2 separate regions of the Homo sapiens genome follow, and region 1 is reported to be linked to region 2. The links are microRNA targets in miRTarBase. Many come from high-throughput screens and were not tested one by one. Region 2 holds a microRNA gene; the other region holds the end of a gene's coding sequence.
Evidence for each region. Region 2 holds the annotated microRNA hsa-miR-4745-3p (UGGCCCGGCGACGUCUCACGGUC, at 3,110-3,132, opposite strand). A microRNA usually pairs through its seed, bases 2 to 8, with sites in the 3' UTR of a target mRNA and lowers its output. Matches are read on the target gene's strand: a 7mer-m8 pairs with bases 2 to 8, a 7mer-A1 pairs with bases 2 to 7 and ends in A, and an 8mer does both.

Region 1 (5,072 bases), not on the chromosome of region 2:
TAACAAAATTCTTCCTAGTTTCAGGAGTCTCCAGACCTATTTTTGCATGCCCTTTATTTTTCCCTGAGGAAATGAATATTATTTACAGTATTTTGCTACTATTCTCAAGGTATTCTCTGTTATATGTACAATTCTGGCCACTTTTCTCTCAACCTTTGCAAGTGAATGCTGCACTTTGGAGTCTGATGAAGGGGGAACATGGATTCAGCAGTGCCAACTAATTCAGAACCCAGGGCTGCTTTCAAAAGTGTGTCTTAGTGTGACACCAGAAACAGCAGACTTAAAACTCGAGTGCTCTTGAGATTTAATGGAGGACATTTCAGTTTCAAAAATCTTTTGCAACATATACACATGTGACTATCTCTTTGAAAAGTTTTTAGAAAGGTCAAGAATTGTGTCATTCTCTATTGAAAATTTTCATCTGCAATATGGTTATGTTCGGGCAGGAATTGTCTAATAAAAGGGCACCTTGTTGGTGCCTGGAGCTGCTGACAGGCACTTTGCAGCTAAGCGCACACATTCTTGGTCAGAAACCCACAGCTTTTTTCCTGACACTGGCTTTTGCCAACCAAGGGAGAAAACTTTTCAGCTAGTGTGGTGGAGAGAAGTCCATATCTGCTAGAGATGGCCCGCTCAGGCTAGGCACAGCAGCCCTGCACTCTTGGCCGGAGGTACTTCCCTTCAGGTCATTCTCTCCTTGCTTCAGGCAGCTGCTCCCAGAGGAGAAAATGGCAGCTCCCTGGGAGGTACTTAGGGATGGTGACCACCAGCTGATCAGCACCAAGAAGATGAGCAAGAGCCAGGTGTCCACAGCCCTCTTGTACCTCCCCCCTGACTCCCTTGCTACCTGTGTGTTTTCTCCAGGCTGTCACACTGCCTCCCACCCACCAATGCAGCACACATCTGCTGGGAAGGCCCAAGGCTTAACACCACTGCCTGCTGGCCACTCTGCTTTGTCGCTCTCTGGAGAATGTCCTGTCAGTCACTATGAAATGACTTCTTTGGAGAGAGATGAAAAACCTTTTCTGAAGGCTGGGGTGTCAAAGGATAAAAAAAAAATCAAAAGGCTACATCATGCCTTACTTAGAAATATTTTGGGACCAGAATCCATTGTTTTGCATGCCTTTTGCGTAGATTGGCCTCTGAGCTCCCTGCGGTGGCCAGGGCTCCAGTTCCACTGCCAGCCTGCTGTGGGAGCAGTCTGCCCAGTCCTCCCCCTCCTCCCAGCCAAACGAACACACACAGAGAACTTGGTTCCACAGAGATGGCATCAAACGAATGTCTGGTTAATTTGGCACTTCATTTAGTTCCAAAATATAACAAAATAATGCTACGTTTAAAAAAAAAAAACCCTAACTTGCACGATCAGTGGTGTATATTGGAATTCATAGCTTTCTGGGTGGCCTGTAAGGAGTATAATCCCTTTTCTTCAAGACCAGCCACCTGTGGCTTGGTGGTCTACTAGTTATTCCACGCCTTGGTCCAGGGAATATGTGTCTGTGTCCAGGAAGGTACTGAGGGTCTGTCTGCACCTGAAGCCAGAAAAGAAAGTACACAGAGCCGTGGGCTAGCAGGCAGAAAGCAGCCCCAACTTGGGTAGGAGGTACAGAACTGTGTGAAAAATGCTTTAGAAAGGAGAAGAGATCCCAGGGAAGCTACATTCAGCTCTGTAGTTCTGCTTATACCTGTGCACTGGCTGAACACCAGATAAGGACTGAGCTTGGCTCAGCTAAGCTGGAGCTCAGCACTACTTATGGGGTATATATCTGGGGGTGGAAGCCACGGGGCTTTGCTCCAGGACTGCTCCATAGCAAAGATCTCTCCCTCCTTGTGTTTCAAAGTTCTGGGATGGGGGATGGATTTTATACTTCATGACTTGAATCTTTTTCTATTAGTAACAGTCCAACGATCAAGGGCCAGGGAGCTTTGCTGAAGAGAAAAACCTCTGGTCCAGGACTGTACCCTGTCATTTAAACACATGGTGAACTTGTTTAAACAGGTGACAAGCTCTGGCCGCCCAAGGCCACTGGGCAATCTGCCCATGGCTCAGGGCTTCCTGGACCAGGCCAGAGCATCATCTCGCATCAGTGGTGCTGCATGGGGGGTGACAGGACACCAGGAGGAGAAAGGACGTGTTAGAGTAGAGGAAACAAACACATTTCTGCGTTTAAAAAAATGCCATTTCCTGGCTGACCTTGTCAGTCTAAAACATACAGTATTGCTGGTGCTGTGACTAGTACTGATTGGTAATCAAGATGCAAAATTAGATGAAGCTCTTTTTCTCTTCTCTTAAAATAAATGTTTTTAAAGAAAAAAATAAATGAAGAAAAAAACCAGGATCTCTTCCAAGGAGTAATTTTAAAAAATTTATATGAGAGTTTAAAAAATAAAAGTCCCATAATATGTGAATGCACAGATTGTGGATGTTGCACTGTAGAACCTCCTTATACTTTCTTTTGCTTGTATATAAAAAGAATATCTGTCATTACTAGATGTCTTCTTTTTACGCTTAAAAAAGTGTATGTATAATCTCTAGACATATATTAAACTTTCCTCTGTGCAATTTCATTTAACATTCCTATGGCTGATCCCATGTCCCCTGTCCCTATACAGTGCCTCCTATAAGGTGCTCTTCCTACTTTGCATAGGTATAGGAGAAATAACTCTTTAGCAGGGCAATTGAGAGTCGGGTAGATAGAGAATGAGCTTATTTATAGGGCTTGACGACTCCCCTCTCCCCACACCACTATCCCCCAAACAAACAAGCAAGTAAGTTACGAAGCCCAATAAATGGAACATAGTGCAAGCCCTGGCCCTACTAAACTGAGAAATTCCTATACCTACATGCATTTTCCTTTTGGCGTTATGTTCCCTTTTGAGCAAATTCTTAAATGAATAGCTCCAATATTTTTATAAGAAAAACTTAAAGTTTGGACCTTCCATTTACTCACATAATGTTTATATTGTTAATTAACTCATCTCCCGGACATGCTAAAGCATAAAACCTATAAAAGTGCACTCAGAATGGAAGTGGTTTGTTGATCTAACATGACTTTCTGAACAGGTAGGGCCATGTGGGCTGTGCTCTGTTGTCTAAAGCAAACCTGCTGGGACAGTTTGGAGTTCTCTACCTCTTCTGAAATCAGTCAGTGGTGGAGTCTGGAGAGAAGGAAAATGACCCATTAACCTGGCTACAATCTTGACAGACAAGCAGTAACAAATAGCTCCGAGTTGCCATTTGTGTCACATCCCTGAAAGAAGCATCGAGGCTTACCCAGATGGCTACAGGTGCCAATTCTTGACTGAGTTGTGGCAGGTAGAGAGTAGAGTTAGCTGTGCTGCCTTTAGGGGAAGAGCTTCTTATGGATCCAAGGAAGACTCCTAGATGTTTCCCAACAGTGACAGCTGGACTTCCTGAACTCAGCTTCGGGCTGAAGTCTGCTGGTGATTTCCGTGGACAATCCCTTCTCGAGTTTATGCCATCTGGGGCCCTACAAACTAATAGCTCTACCATGGTTCAGTGTGGGGCCATTCTTAAAAGAAAAACAAACAAAAAGCCATAGAAAAGATGCCCAGAGTGCTGCGCTGTCTTGCAACACATCCTGACATATACTGCTCCAAGAAGTCAAATGGAAGATACGGAAAAGATTATTCACAACAAAAGTAAGTATTGATCTTTGTACAAATGCTACTGAATAACCTGTAGCTTGTTTTTTAAGTGTCAAAAAAATCTTGAAAATGGCATAATTCAGAAAGCTTATCAAAATATGCCTCCTTTCTAGGTAAAATGGGCTTTGTTGGTTCAATTGCTACAGAAGTCCACAGTTTTAAGTCTAGACATACAGCAAAAAAAGTTGACTTTTCTTTTGAAGGAAAAAAAACTAGTTATAGCTGCTCCAAGCTGGGTTCTCAGTAAGAGCAACTTTCTTTTGTCATAGGTGGTGACTTAAACAATTTTTCTGTGTTTTTGCTGTTATTCCTCCAAGGTTCCTGAAAGGGCTTTTCCTGGCTTCAACTGTGTTTTATTCAGTAGGAAAAGCTCTTTCCAACACCTGCAGTGGCAGGCCAGGGCAGGAGCGGCTCAGGGCCCTGAGCCCCTCTGCCTGGGGGTCTCTCAGTCGAGGAACCTCTGGCAGGCCTTCTTCCAGCGGCAGGCGGTACACCACATGTCTCGGTTCTCCATCCCGTACACCTTCCGACACTTTTTGCCCTCTCCCCTGGGCTTCCTGTAAGACAGACGAGGAAGGTTAGTTTAGTGGGAGGAATTCAATGGGCATTCTATGGAGAGCTCAAAAATCCCTTGCAAGAGTGAGGGAGGAAAAAAAAAAAAAAAAGGCTGGCCATGGTGGCTCATGCCTGTAATCCCAGCACTTTGGGAGGCTGAGGTGGGCGGATCACCAGAGGTCAGGAGTTTGAGACCAGCCTGTCAACATGGTGAAACTCTGTCTCTACTTAAAACACACAAAAATTAGCCAGGCATGTACCTGTAATCCCAGCTACTCAGGAGGCTGAGGCAGGAGAATCACTTGAACCCGGGAGGTGGAGTTTGCAGTGAGCCAAGATCGCGCTGCACTCCAGCCTGGGAGACAGCGACTTCTCTCTAGGTTCAGACTCTAATATGTGCTGGTTGTTTTCACAGCCACTACACTCAACTGTTAAAATTTGCTACCATATCCCTTAGGCTTCTATTTGTCTACTTGTGGACATGTCCATTTGGGCATCTTCATAAAACTGAATTAAACAAGTAAACACAAGAAATGCCAGTAGAGAGCAACATTGCTCTTTCAAGTTTTTAAGTAGGTACTTTCAAATGCTTCCACCATTCTCAATTTCTAGTACAGCAGTCCCTGCTAAGGGTGGGGAATATGTTCCAAGACCTCCAGTGGATGCCTCAAACTGCAAATAGTACAAACCCTATATATATATTATGCATGACTTTTTCTTTCTTTACAGTTTCATGGATTGAAGATTCATTCTTACTGTCGATCTTCGCAATCTCAGTATAAAAATTTTTTTCTTTCTTTGTTAAGTTGAAAACTTTCACCTTTTCACTTAAAGGAAGCACTTTATAG
Region 2 (5,000 bases):
TAACTCTGAAAAGCATGCAGGGCGATAAACCATGCGTACGTATCTACGGGACCAAATAAAATTCGCAAACCGAAAGCAAACCATAAAACGAGGCGGATGCCACGGAGCATCAGAGTGCCAAACCGCAAACTCATAATACGTCTCAGGGCATCAAAATCATCTCAATTAATGAAAACAAGGTAATAAAAGTGTGAACGATAACATACCGAAAAGAATAAAGAGGCTTTGGGGTGTGACTCTCTTTAGAGACAGCAGAGCAAGGCAGCGGAGGGACAGGGGAGAGGGAGAGGTCAAGGGGGGCGAGTTGCCAATCGTCCACACGAGGAAGACAGTCCCCGCAGGCGTGCAGTGGTTGATGGATGATGAAGTTGTCAGGATGTTAATATTCAAGGGCAGGTTGGTTTCCGGAGAGCAGGGTTTGAGGGGGAATTTTTGTTTTTTATTTGTTTATGTTTTTGTTTTGTTTCAAGCAACAACAGGAAGCAGAAGTACCGTGCAGTCAGTTGGCAAAGAAATTCCGGATCAGGGCAAGAAAAAAAATAGGGAAAGGGGAAGGGGAGAAAAGAAAAAAAGTAGCAAAAAAACACAGGTCAGTAAATACATAAGAATCAGGTAGTGTTCTATCAGTCACACTCCACACACATTCCAGTTACAGGTTTACCTCGACGGGCACACGGTAAGAGAAGCACCTTCACTCACATGCCGGCAGAGACAGCGCTGCTGGAGGGGCTCCCAGAAGCCGATCCCAACCACGCCCCCCAGGAGCGCGCGTGCAGCTCCGCTCGCGGCCACCTCAGCCAAGCCCTGCAGCAGCGCTGTCTCCCGCAGCTGTGGCACAAGTCAGTCTCTAAGGACGATTACAGGCGTGAAGGGAGATCGAGTCTGTTAGTGCACGGCCTCGCTCAGGAGGAGCTGGAGGGACAGCACCCGGCTCGTGGTAAGAGGCACAGGCAGGGAGTGCGTCCTGGGCCCCCGCGAGGGAGGGCCAGGCTGGGCACCGCCTTGAGGAAGTCACAGGAGTTGCCGGGAAACAGAACAGCCTGAAATGCTGATTCCAGGAGGATCCCATCCATCAAGAGTTACATATTTTGGGCCTCTTGTTTCACCCAAGCTCTCCCCGAGGGGAATTTAACCATTCTGGGAAATAACGGATCCACCAGTTAAGTGACAGGCTCTCGAGCCACAGGGGCTGCCCACACCCCGCCGCGCTAACCCTGTGTGTCCCGCTGACCAGCAGGGCGGCCTGCTGGGGCTCTGAACTGCGCGCCCTGCTCAGCTCCAAGTAATTTTTAGATTGCCTTTGGGTAACCAAAAAATAATTCATTCTGCGTATCATGCAAGAGAAAACGCGAACCAAGATGTGAATTCAGGAAAAGAGGAAAACTCAAGCCATCTTGGAAAAGGAGGGTCTCAGCGCTGCAGCAGAGGGGCTGCCAGGGCAGAGGCGCAGACACAGCGAGGGGCGGCGCTGCTCCGGGACCCGAGCCCGAGCACAACATCCCCTGCTCGCTCTTCCGGGAGGAACGGCGGCGCGGAGGAAAAGCCCACGTACCTCTGGGTTGAGGTTGCTGACCAGCAATACAGAATTTCCTGCCCCCGCCAGGCCCGGGATGGCGATCCGACCTGCCGCCGCAGCTGCCGCCGCCGCCGAGGGGATGGCCAGGGGGGCCAGGGCGCCGTGGACGTTCGGAACGGAAAGGCCTGGAAAAGCAGGAGGTGAGATGAGCGGCGGCGCCCCCGACTCCACCGCAGAGTGGGAGAGGCCGACGCTCCCCGTCCTCATGCACCGAGGAGCCGAGCCGCGCGGGAGGCGGCCCTGGCTCTGGCCCTACCCTGGGTGCCTGTGGGGTCGTCCGACCCCCGCACAGCCACCCGCCGGCTCCTGCACCAGCGCCCGCCTCTCCTCACAGCACGGGCCGGGCCGGGCCTGGGCTCATCTGCATGCGCCCCGCCCACAGCACAGAAAAGCTCCGGCTCCGCCAGCACAGACACGGGGCCCTCGGCAAGCAGGGCCCGTCCCGGGACCACCGCGCATGCGCGCCCATGCCTCCATGCAGACGAGGCGGCCGCCGGGCGGCACGCGCTGCTCCGTCCACGGCCAGCACTGGGGCGGCCGGGCCCCGGTCCCAGAAGGGAAGCGGGAGGACGGCCACGCACACACGTCCCGCCGCCGGTCATGCTGCTCAGCCTCGGGCCGCGCGCTTACCAGGCCACTCAAATTCAACTACTAGAGACATCCCTCCAACCACTGGCGGTCCTCGCGCTCGCCCGGAGGTGCTTGAAGGGAACCAGACCACAAAGACTGTGCGATTAGCGGCTTCTGGCTGGCGCCGTCCACACGTGGGCCTCCACAGCCCTGTCCTACCACTGCCCTGGCCAAGCCTGCTCTGTGGACGTGGCGTCCCCTCTCCCGGGAAGGGCCCCTGACCTGGCACTCGAGTGCCCAGTCCGCCCAGGCTGCCGCCGTGGATGCGGAGCTGCCTGGGAAGGTGGTGTGGGCATGCAGTCGCTGGGGAACCAAGACCAAGCGTTTGAATACCTGCAGCTTGAGGAATGGCAAAGGTGGGAGGGAAACCAGCTCCTGCATACGGAGAGGCTGAGATTATACCAGGTGCACCTAGAAATAAATGAGACACTAATCATCGCACCCACAACCTCCACCGCGAGCGGGCGCTGTGCTGCGGGATGGGCCCCAACCCGGCCGGCGGGCGGCCCCGGCAGAGCCTTCGCGGGCAGATCCGCTGCTCCAGGGGGGGCCGTGGTCCCGACGTGGGGGACACTGGACCGTGCTGTGCTGGCCGTGCAGAGAGCAGCAGGTGCATCACCCTGGTGCAGGGCCGGGCCCGTGCCGCCGGGGCTCCGGACTGAGCGGCCCTAATAGACCACTCTGCACACTGGCGCCGCGTCGGGCAGCCTCTTACCGAAGGCCGCGGCCATGGTCTGGTCCAGCGAGGGCTGGCTGTCCCCGGAAGGCAGGTCTGGGCGTGTGTAGTCACGGCTCTTGTCATTGTTGTACTTGACGTTGAGGCTGGTGAGCTTGGAAAAGTCGATGCGCAGCGTGCAGCAGGCGTTGTAGATGTTCTGCCCGTCCAGCGACTGAGGGGAGAGGGACCGTGAGACGTCGCCGGGCCAGGGCCAGGGCGGGCGCCGTCCCGGGAGCCCCACTCACCAGCTTGGCGTGCTGGGCGCTCACGGGGTCCGCATACTGCAGCAGGGCCTGGAACTGGTTGTTCTTGGTGAAGGTGATGATCTTCAACACTGTGCCGAACTTGGAGAAAATCTGCAGGTCCCGGGCCACAGCATGAGCTCCTGCCCGGTGCCCACCAGCCCTGCCAGGCCCCTCCCGTGTGCCTGTGCCCACAGCAATAGCAGCCGACCTGCCCTGGCGGTGATGGGACCACCTCACCTGGTGCAGCACATCCAGGGTCACAGGGTAGAAGAGGTTCTCCACGATGATCCTGAGCACGGGGCTCTGCCCGGCCATCGCCATCCCTGCGTCCACGGCCGCCGCCGAGGCAGCCAAGGCCAGGTTCCCCGACTGGACCGAGTTCACCGCCTGCAGGGCCGCCTGGGCCCGCTGTGGGAGGCACAGCCGTGAGTCCCCGGCCCCTGCGGCTGGGCCCACCCCCGAGGTCCCCGGGCTGCTGGGGTCCGCCGCGGGGCCACGCACCGCCTGGTTGGGAGAGCTGTCGGTCTTCAGCTCCTTGTGGTTGGAGAACTGGATGTAGATGGGCTGGCCGCGCAGCACAGGGGTCACCGAGGTGTAGTAGTTCACCATGGTGTTGGCAGCCTCCTCCGTGTTCATCTCGATGAAGGCCTGTTGGGGAGGCAGTGAGCGCTGGGCCCTCCTCGTCCCCGCCTGCACGGTGTGAGCACCCCGGAGAAACGCGGCTCAGGTACCTGGTTTTTCCCCTTCAGCATCAGGAGGTTGGTGACCTTCCCAAAGGGCAGCCCCAGGGAGATGACTTCCCCCTCCGTGACGTCGATGGGGAGCTTCCGGATGTGGATCACTCTAGAGGGGACGCCTGCACTTCGGCTGTCACCTTTGAACTTCTTGCTGTCATTTCCGTTTGCTGAAAAGGGGGTGCCATGAGATGCAGGCACCAACTCGCAGGAGCCCACAGAGGAAGGTCCCTGCTATCCCCCTAGAGCCCTGCCTGCTACGGAGACCAACCCTGAGCCCCAGGAGGGTGCATGTGAACCAGCAGCGCGAGAGGCCAAGACCTGCACAGTCAGGACCCCTGCTCCCGACAGCTCCTGACAACCCGCCCACAGGTCCAAGTGCCAGCCTGGACCATCCATCCAGCGCCTCCCTGGAAATTCTCTGCAGCGAGAACTTGGACCTGGGTCTGTAGCGTGGACCATGGGCCCCTGCAGTTGGAGATGGAAAGTAGAGTCCCAGAACAAGAACGTAACGTTGTTCCAGGGAAAGACACCCACGGGTCTTGCCCTGGGCCGAGTCCCGGCCTTACCTGCAGAAGCCGAGTTGCTGCTCATGATAAACGGTCCGTTAGTGACACAAGTAGAGAAAAGCTCGTCAGATCCCCGCTGCAAGAGAAGGGACAACGCGGAGCTGCACTTCCCACCAGGCCAGAGCCTCCCTTCCCCACCGGCCGGCCCTGCTCCCACTTGGGCTGCCTGGGGTCCCAGACCCCCAACCCATACCCACACCCACACTTCCACGGCAGGGCAGCCTGAGCGCAGACCCAGCCCATGGACGCGCACGGCACCCCACAGCTCCACGACCAAAACACTGCTCCTTTTTCCAAATTCTGGAAGCCCTGGGTACTCAGCCAGTGTGGGGCTGGGAGGCTCTCAGCTACGGAGGGCACCACGTACACTATCTCCACGGCCAACTCTGCTGTGGACGTGGCCTCACTGTGCTGCCAGCGGCCCTGGGCACAGGCCTGGGGCCTCAGCCACCAGCCAGCAGGGCAGAGGACCCCCTCCATGGAGCCAGCCCCCCCAGCAGCACACGGCAGGGCCCAGGCAGCCGTCCT

Region 1: the mRNA of ZNF704 is a reported target of hsa-miR-4745-3p. Seed matches in the 3' UTR shown: 7mer-A1 at 626-632.

What each region holds. Positions count from the first base shown.
Region 1 is chr8:80,637,252-80,642,323 of GRCh38, forward strand. ZNF704 (zinc finger protein 704) reads right to left here. Exons shown (of 9, transcript NM_001033723.3): 9 at 1-4,226. The coding sequence ends at 4,115. Among named protein-coding and RNA genes, the nearest start is that of LINC02986, 100 kb to the left of the region's middle. RefSeq lists an enhancer at 3,085-4,284.
Region 2 is chr19:803,109-808,108 of GRCh38, reverse strand. MIR4745 (microRNA 4745) reads right to left here and starts at 3,169; the gene lies at 3,108-3,169. PTBP1 (polypyrimidine tract binding protein 1) reads right to left here. Exons shown (of 15, transcript NM_002819.5): 3 at 4,473-4,548; 4 at 3,901-4,073; 5 at 3,671-3,817; 6 at 3,407-3,577; 7 at 3,170-3,280; 8 at 2,922-3,096; 9 at 2,540-2,617; 10 at 1,553-1,701; 11 at 207-240. RefSeq lists an enhancer at 4,352-4,874.